2 separate regions of the Homo sapiens genome follow, and region 2 is linked to region 1. The links come from fine-mapping of genetic effects on gene expression. Tissue or cell type: testis. Region 1 holds a variant in brackets; the other region holds the start of a gene. All regions are shown on one strand. Distances are between the middles of the regions. Region 1 has its middle 74 kb from the start of LINC02534. Region 2 holds the start of LINC02534 (long intergenic non-protein coding RNA 2534).

What was found. PIP is the estimated chance that this variant, and not a neighbour inherited with it, causes the effect. A credible set is the group of variants that fine-mapping cannot tell apart.
Region 2: LINC02534 starts here. The variant in region 1 is the best candidate, but not a certain one, in a credible set for the expression of LINC02534 in testis (GTEx, PIP 0.61).

What each region holds. Positions count from the first base shown.
Region 1 is chr6:115,567,860-115,572,269 of GRCh38, reverse strand. No RefSeq gene overlaps it. Among named protein-coding and RNA genes, the nearest start is that of LINC02534, 74 kb to the left of the region's middle. The variant A/C (reference allele first, on the strand shown) is at 2,243.
Region 2 is chr6:115,641,265-115,645,674 of GRCh38, reverse strand. It overlaps LINC02534 (long intergenic non-protein coding RNA 2534), which reads left to right and starts at 1,840. Exons shown (of 4, transcript NR_134602.1): 1 at 1,840-1,870.

The sequences.
Region 1 (4,410 bases):
TCTGGTTTGCATGGGAGGAGAATGAAATTGAAGATGGTAGAATTCAGTTCCCAGGTACACAGTTGAGGTGAGCCATGGGTAATGTGCATTCCCTGAGCATGAAAGCTCCAAGAATTCCCTCTTGATCAACTTCCCTCATTCCCGCCGGGTGAGTAGAACTCGTAGCTTGAAAGTTTACATAATGAGATGGTGTAGCTTGATAGCTTACATAATGAGATGGTGTACATGCCTTCTCCTTCCACCTCGCCTCTCTTTTGGTCTGTATCGATGCTGGCAAGGTAGAAAACCTGAGCATTTACCTATGGACCCCAGGGAAGGGCACATATAGTAGCTGAGAAGTATGTACCTTGTTTCTATCAGAGCCACTTAGGTGCAATAATGTCATTCCTGTGTGTATATTAAAGTCTTAGGCCCCACCCCACAAAGAGATTCTAATTTTATTATCTTGGGTGGGGTCAGGGAATCATTTTTCGAAATGCCTCTGGTGATGAAAATCTAAAGCCCAGTTTGAGAACTATTGCCCAACTACAAGGTAGATGCCTTAATACCCAGGACTTAACAAAATTTGGCGAGGGGAAGTGTGCAGTTGAAGTTCAGAGCCTTGAGACAATTGGCTTTGGCAGTACCAAGAATGGACCAGGAGTTGTCACAGCTGTGAATCCAGCAAAGACAGAGACCAACATGCAGAGGCTAAGCTGCAGGAGGCACCTCATGGGTCAGGAGGATTGGAAGTCTTTTCTCCAGTGTTCCCAAATTAAGGAAGATTCCTTCACATCCATTGCAATCCAGAAGGATGAGGAAATAAAAATACAGGAAAAACAGAGCATTTGTTCTATAGAATTTAAATTATATCCATCAGGTCATAGTTAAAAAAAAGGTAATGATTGTTTAATATGTTCTTTTCTTAAAATGTTGGTTTTACCCAGTTTTGAAAGCCTCACTGGAGGCTGGTCAGTTCCCCTTCTACAATGGCTGATTTTAAGTTCATATTCCAGCCACTTCCTTTATGAACTCTCACACTCAGAGTCCACTATGCAAAACCCTAATTGCCTAGGGTCCAGGTACCAGACAACTGGGGGCAGACTCTGTGCTTTGGAGCTGGAGAATTAAAATTAGCCAATCTATAGGCATCCCCAAGAAACCTCACCCCAGCCGACTTGCCATACATAAGTTGCCACTGTCATCCCTGCTTGCTGTTAATCCTGTCCCTGGATGCAAAATTCTATGGCCTAATGTAGCAGACTTCTCTCCTTTGGAGTTCCAAATAACAAGGAGTTCTGCCTTTTTTTCTGTGTGTGTGACATTGTGTTGTATCCTGCCATTACAAAAATTTAAATTTTATAAAACATTATGTTATGTTTAATGGACCCAATTAAGCATTCATCACTTCCCCATTGTCCTACTCATCCTGCACTTCAATTCTCCCTGTGACATGAGCAACGATGCATTATGTCACAAATAAAATGACTTATTTTCATGTTTAGGTGTGCACTGACTTTTTTAAATGAAGAAAGCTATCATAATATTGTGATGAATTAAGCAAGGTCTGATCCTCTACTGTTTAGCAGCATCGTTTAAATCAATACATTATTTCTGGAAAACTTTACTCACTCACTTGCCACAGAGGAATCTTTTTGGGCAGAGGGTTTCAGAGGCAATAGCAAGGAGGGAGAAGACTCTGTTAGATGGAGTTTGGATAAAATAAAGGCCTGAATGTTCTCTATAATAAACACATTCCTTCTGAGGCTGAGGAATTTGACTGTCTCTTGTATGTGAATGCTGACCACATCCTTCCAGCTGTTCGTTTGTGACTTATTTTCTCCTTTATTTTCTCTTTGAAGTGTATACAGGAAGAAGTGAGGAGGGGAGAGCAGAAGGAAAGTGAAAAAAGCAGAGGCTAAAAAGAGCACCCAATAAAACATTAAAAAGGGTACCAGAAACCCTAGACTTTTTCTTTCAAAAACTTCACTCAGTCTTTTATAATGCCTTCAAATACTATGATACAGTGAAGACTATCTTTGAAAAGAATGTGTTGTTCACTAAAGGAAAATGTATCAATAATAAAAGAGGGTATCAATTCAAACTTCCAACTTAGGTTATTAAAGAGACATGGACCAAAGGCCATACGAATACATAAAACTTGTAGGTTGTACAAAAACATGTAACATTGTACAAAAACAAGAACTAGAAATACCATTTGACCCAGTAATGGGATTGCTGGGTATATACCCAAAGGATTATA[A/C]ATCATGCTACTATAAAGACACATGCACACGTATGTTTGTTGCGGCACTATTCACAATAGCAAAGACTTGAAACTAACCCAAATGTCCATCAATGATAGACTGGATTAAGAAAATGTGGCACATATACACCATGGAATACTGTGCAGCCATGAAAAAGGATGAGTTCATGTCCTTTGTAGGGACATGGATGAAGCTGGAAACCATTGTGAGCAAACTATCACAAGGACAGAAAATCAAACACCACATGTTCTCACTCGTAGGTGGGAATTGAACAATGAGAACACTTGGACATAGGGCGGGGAACATCACACACTGGGGCCTGTCGTGGGGTGGGGGAATGGGGGAGGGATAGCATTAGGAGAAATACCTAATGTAAATGATGAGTTAATGGGTGCAGAAAACCAACATGGCACATGTATACATATGTAACAAACCTGCACATTGTGCACATGTACCCTAAAACTTAAAGTATAATAATAATAATAGTAATAAACATGTAACATTAGAAATTTTGTGCTCCGTATGCCTGGTATATTTGCTTTAGGTATGTCAAATTTATAAAGTTGTTAGTTTGTATTTTAATAATGTGCTCTCTAGAATAGGGAGGCCCCCTGAAGGTAAAATCGGTTACAGATTTCTTAAGATAGTGCAATCTAATGGAAAGGGTCATGTAGAATAAGTTTAATAATGACTACAACAATAATCAAATATAGCAGTGTGGTCTGAGTTTATATCAGCTATCAAAGAATGCATAATGAACCATCCCCAAGACTTGTAACTTAAACAATCATTGAATATTTCCCTCAATATTGTGGATAGCTTGTGCTTAGCATGGTGGTTCTTCTGCTGGTCTTATCTGGGCTCAGTTGAACAGCTGACACAGGACTGTCCAAAATAACTACATTCACATACTGGTTATTGAGAGATCTTGTTTTCCCCATTCAGGCTAGACTAGTTGTCTTACAGCATGGCAGCTGAGTCCCAACACAACATAAATGAATGCTTCAAAGTCTCTGAAAGCTTAGATCTAGATGGCACACAGCAATACTTCAACCACATTCTCTTGGTCAAAACAATTTACAGGGAAGCCAGTATCCAAGGGAAAGAAAAATGCACTCTGTTTCTTGATAAGTGTGGCAAATTGCAAAAGCGTAGGTAAGGATGGACGGTATAGTTAAGGTTATCTTTTGAAATAATCTAACCACAGACTTTAGTTTTCTCATTTACAAAATATGGGTTTGGATCAGTTATATTAATAACCTTGCAACTAAAATTTTATGATTAAAAAGACACTTTTACAATTAAAATGACTGTATTTTTTTCCTTCATTTTAATTTTAGGTTCAAGGGGTGCATGTGTAGGTTTACTACATGGGTAAATTACATGTCACTGAGGCTTGATGTACGAATGATCCTGTCACCCAGGCAGTGAGCATAGTACCTGATAGGTAGCAGCCTTTCAACCCACACCCCTCTCCCACCCTCCCCCCGGAGCAGTCCCCAGTGTCTACTCTTCCCATCTTTGTGTCCCTGTGTATTTAATGTTTAGTCCCATTAATAAGTGAGAACATATGATATTTGGTTTTCTGTTTCTGCATTAATTCATTTAGGATGATGGCCTCCAGCTATGTCCATGTTGCTTCAAAGGACATGATTTCATTTTTTATGGCCTCATAGTATTCCACAGTTTATATGAACCACATTTTCTTTATCCAGTCCACTATCAACAGGCATCTTAATTGACTGCATGTTTTTGCTATTGTGAATAGTGCTATGATAAACATATGTGTGCATATGTCTTTCTGGTAGAATGATTTATTTTTCTCTGGGCTCGTGCCTAGTAGTGGGATTGTTGGAGTGAATGTTAGTTCTGTTTTGAATTCTTTGAGAAATCACTACACTGCTTTCCACAGAGGCTGAACTAATTTACCTTCCCACCAGCAGCCTATAAGTGTCCTCCTTTCTCTGTAACCCCACTAGCATCTGTTGTTGTTTTTTTGACTTTTTAATAATCATCATTCTGACTGGTGTGAGATGGTCTCTCATTGTGGTTTTGATTTCCATTTCTCTAATGGTTAGTAATAATAAACATTTAAAAATATATATTTGTTGGTCACATGTATGTCTTCTTTTGAGAAGTGTCTATTTATGTCCTTTTCTCATTTTTA
Region 2 (4,410 bases), 73 kb before region 1:
GTAAGTTTTATCGATAAGCCCCTGACTGAGGCTGCTGCCTTTCTTTCAGAGATGCTCTGCTCAGAGGGGAGGAATCTAGAGAAGCAGTCTGGCTACAGTGGTTTTGTCAAGCTGTGGTGGGCTCTGCCCAGTTTGAACTTCTTGGCGGCTTTGTTTATGCTGTGAGGGGAAAACCACCTACTCAAGCCTCAGTAATGGTGGACACCCCTCCCCCCACCAAGCTGGAGCATCCCAGGTCGACTTCAGACTGTTGTGCCGGTAGTGAGAATTTCAAGCCAGTGGAGCTTAGCTTGCTAGGCTCCGTGGGGCTGGAATCCACTGAGCTAGACCACTTGGCTTCCTAACTTCAGCCCCTTCTCCAGGGGAGTAAAGGATTCTGTCTCTCTGGTGTTCCAGGAGCCACTGGGGTATGAAAAGAAACTCCTGCAGCTAGGTCAGTGTTTGCCCAAATGACCATCCAGTTTTGTGCTTGAAACCCAGGGCCCTGGTGGCATAGGCACCGGAGGGAATCTCCTGGTCTGCAGGTTGTGAAGACAGTGGAAAAAGTGTAGTATCTGGGCCAGAGTGCACGGTTCCTCATGGCACAGTCCCTCATGGCTTCCCTTGGCTAGGGGAGGGAGTTCCCTGACCCCTTGCACTTCCCAGGTGAGGCGACACCCCACCCTGCTTCTGCTCGCACTCCGTGGGCTGCACCCACTGTCTAACCAGTCACATTGATATGAACTAGGTGCCTCAGTTGGAAATGCAGAAATCACCCACCTTCTGCGTTGATCTCACTGGGAGCTGCAGACTGGAGCTATTCCTATTCGGCCATCTTGCCAGCTGCCAACATTACAACTTTTAATAATAATTAACAAATACATTTTTGCACACTAGTTATTTTTCCATAAGATGAGATTTGATAATACTAAATTTTTTTAACATTACATTTTGGAAGATGAGTTAAAGATAAGAAATGCTCTCAGTAGGTATTAAATGCAGGATAAAAATATGCATACATTATAATTGTTTATGTGTAAAACACACTAAGGGCTTTTGCCTATTCTCTCAAGACAACAGTTATCAACACGGAAGACTTCTGAGACCAAATGTAGGCAGGGGTTTTTCCCCATCACCAAGTGAGCAATTAATTCTGTAGTGAACACCAACTGAGTATTCTCCAATTCAACTCCAACATTACCTGGAGATAGAGTCAGGTCCCAGAGCTTGGGGACTCAGTTTCCCAAGTTCCCCCATGCCCACTCCTCCAGACACCTTTTGCATGTCCAGGCCATCCTGAACTTCTGATCAACTGGCTTCAAGTTGGGGTTCCCACAATCCACTCTTTGGGTTTGATTAATTTGCTGGAGTGGCTCACAGAACTCATGAAAACAAATTTACCATTTTATTATAAGCGATATTACAAAGAAGACAGATGAAAAGATGCATAGGGCAAGGCGTATACAAAGGAACATGGAGCTTTCATGTCCTCTCTGGGTGCAACACCCCCCAGGAACCTCGACATGTTCAGCTATCTGGAAGCTCTTCAAACCTTGTTCTCTTGGATCTTTTAATAGGGATTTTATTGGAGAGACAGGATTGAAGCATGGACAACCATATTGAAATGTGATTGGACAGAAATGATGTGATATAAACTCAGTAAGGCCTGTCTGTTCAGATTCTTCTTGTCCTCTGTGCGGCATTCTTTACTCCACGGTAGGGGGCAGGACCCTTTCTGAAATGATTGTTTTATGACTCACAATCAGATTAGAATCCTGCCATGGCCAGTTGAAAGGAGAGCAGGAGAAGTTCAGAGGGAGAGAGAGATTGACTCTGTTTACTATAACAAGGGCTTTGGGAATTATGAGCCAGGAACTGTAGACCAAAACCTGTATGTATGTGTGTATATTTTATGCACACACACCCCCACACACAGAAACACACACATATATATGCAGATACATATATATACACACATATGTATGCACATGTGTATGTGTGTATCACAGTAGCATACACACATATAGAAATAAAAGAAAGTAAACTTAAATGTTAGCTATGGTTATGACCTGGGTGAAGAAATTCATTCTGGAATTCTTCCCAGTCAAGTTTATTGAAAAAAAATTAAATATATAAAATGTATCCTTTCGGTGTATAGTTCTATGAGTTTTGACAAAGGCAGGCCTTTCTCTAAGTTTTTGGTGGACATGTAATCACAACAGTCAAAATAAAAAATAGTTCCACCACCTCAAAAAGTTTCTGCATGCTCCATTGTACTCCTTCCTCCCTGGTCACACACCCAACACATGCAGCCCCTGGAAAACACCAATTTTTCATTCTTTATAAATTCTCTCATCCAAAATACCATATTCGAGAATCACACAGTATGTAATTTTTGAGTCTGGCTTCTTTCATTTAGCATAATGCTTTTGACATACCTCTATGTTGTTACATGTACCAGTATGCATTCTTCCAGGTTTTGATAATAAGTATAAAGCTGCAATAAACATTTGTATGCAGGTTTTTCTGTGAACATATGTTTGTTTTCTTTAGTACAAATATTGAGTGGAAATACTGGTTTGCATGGTAAGTGTACATTTAATTAAAAAAGAAACTGTCAAAACTTTTCCAAAGTGATTGTAGCATATTGCATCCCAACTGGCAATATATGAGAGTTCCAGTTGTTTAGTCTTGTCAGCACATGTTATTGTCAAGTTTTTGTAGTCTTAGCCACAATAACGGGTATGTAATGCTATCTTATTTTGGTTTTAGTTTGTATATCATTAATGACAACAGATGTTGAGCACTTTTTGATGTGCTTAATTGCCATTTAAATATCATCCTCAATTAAAATATCAATTTTTTCTCATTTAAAAATCAGATTGCTTGTTTTCTTGTCATTAAGACCTTTTATATCATATCAGATATGTGTTCTTCAAGTATTTTATTCCAATCTGTGGCTTGTCTTTTTATTTTAAGTTTTATTTGAAAAGTAGAGATTTTAATTTTGAGGAAGTCCAGTTTTCCAATTTTTACTTTTCAAGATTATGCTTTTTGTGTCATATTTAAATTTCTTTTTGCCTAACCCAAGGTGACAGAGATTTTCTTCTATATTTTCTTCTAGCAGTCCTTGTGACTTTATTAGGAGAAAGGGTATTTAAAGAGATAATTAAGGTTGAATGAGTCATAAAAGTAGGGCCCTAATTCTATAAGACTGGTGTCCTTAAGAAAAAGAGACACCAGAGGTGCTCACACACAGAGAAAAAGCAATGTGGGGCCACAGCTCGCTAAAAATGACTATTTACAAGCCAAGAAGAGAGGCATCAGGAAACAGCAAACATGCTAGCCCCTTGAAGAGAGGCATCAGGAAGCATCAAACATGCTAGCCCCTTGTTCTTGAACTTCTGTCCTCCAGGAGAAAATAAATTCCTGTTGCTTATGCCACCCAATATGTAGTATTTTATTATGGCAGTCCAAGCTGACTGCTGCGAACAGTATAAGTCCTTCAACTTTGTTCTATCTTTTCAAAATTGTTTGAGCTATTGTGTTCCTTTGCTTTCCCACTCCTCCCACCCTACCATATTAGAATTTGATGGCAAATTTCCACAAAAAAATTTTGCTGACATTTTTGTTGTAACTGTATTGACTCTACAGATCTATTAGGGTGGAATTGACATCTTAATGTATTGAGTCTTCTGATCCATCAACCTAAAATATATTTTAATTTATTTAGGTCCTCTTTTATTTCCTTTATAAGTGTAGTTTTTAGTATATAAATCTTGAGTTGTACTTTATTACACTTATATCTCAGTAATGTTTCTGATGTTATAAATAATACTCTATTTGTTTCAATAGTCTGTTTATTTCAGTTTCCCATTGTTCATTGTTAGCATGTAAAAATACAATGGATATTTGTTTATGGAGTTTGTTTTCAGTAAAATTGTTAAATTTATTTACTAGTTATACTAGCTTCTTTGTAGATTGTTAAGATTCTGTATGTAGATAATATGTCTTTCTTTCAAAACTGTATGTCTTTAATTTTTTTGTTTTTATTTATTACACTGAATAAAACCTCCAATAACATGTTAAATAGAAGTGATAAGAAAGGACATTTTGCCTGTTCCTGATCACAGAGAAAAATACTAAGTCTGTCATTAAGAATGGCATTATATGAAGGCTTTTAGTAGATATCTTATGTCAGGTTGAGGAAATTTTCTTCTGTTTGCTTATTTTAACATTAATACATATTGAATTTTATAAAGGCTTTCATTGAGATGCGTGTATTGAAATCATCATATGATTTCTCTTCTTGTGATATGGTGAATTACACTGATTAATTTTCAGTTATTGAACCAAACCTGCCTTCCAAGTATAAAATCTATTTGGTCATGATGTATTAGCTTTTGCATATGATGCTAAATTTGATTTGCC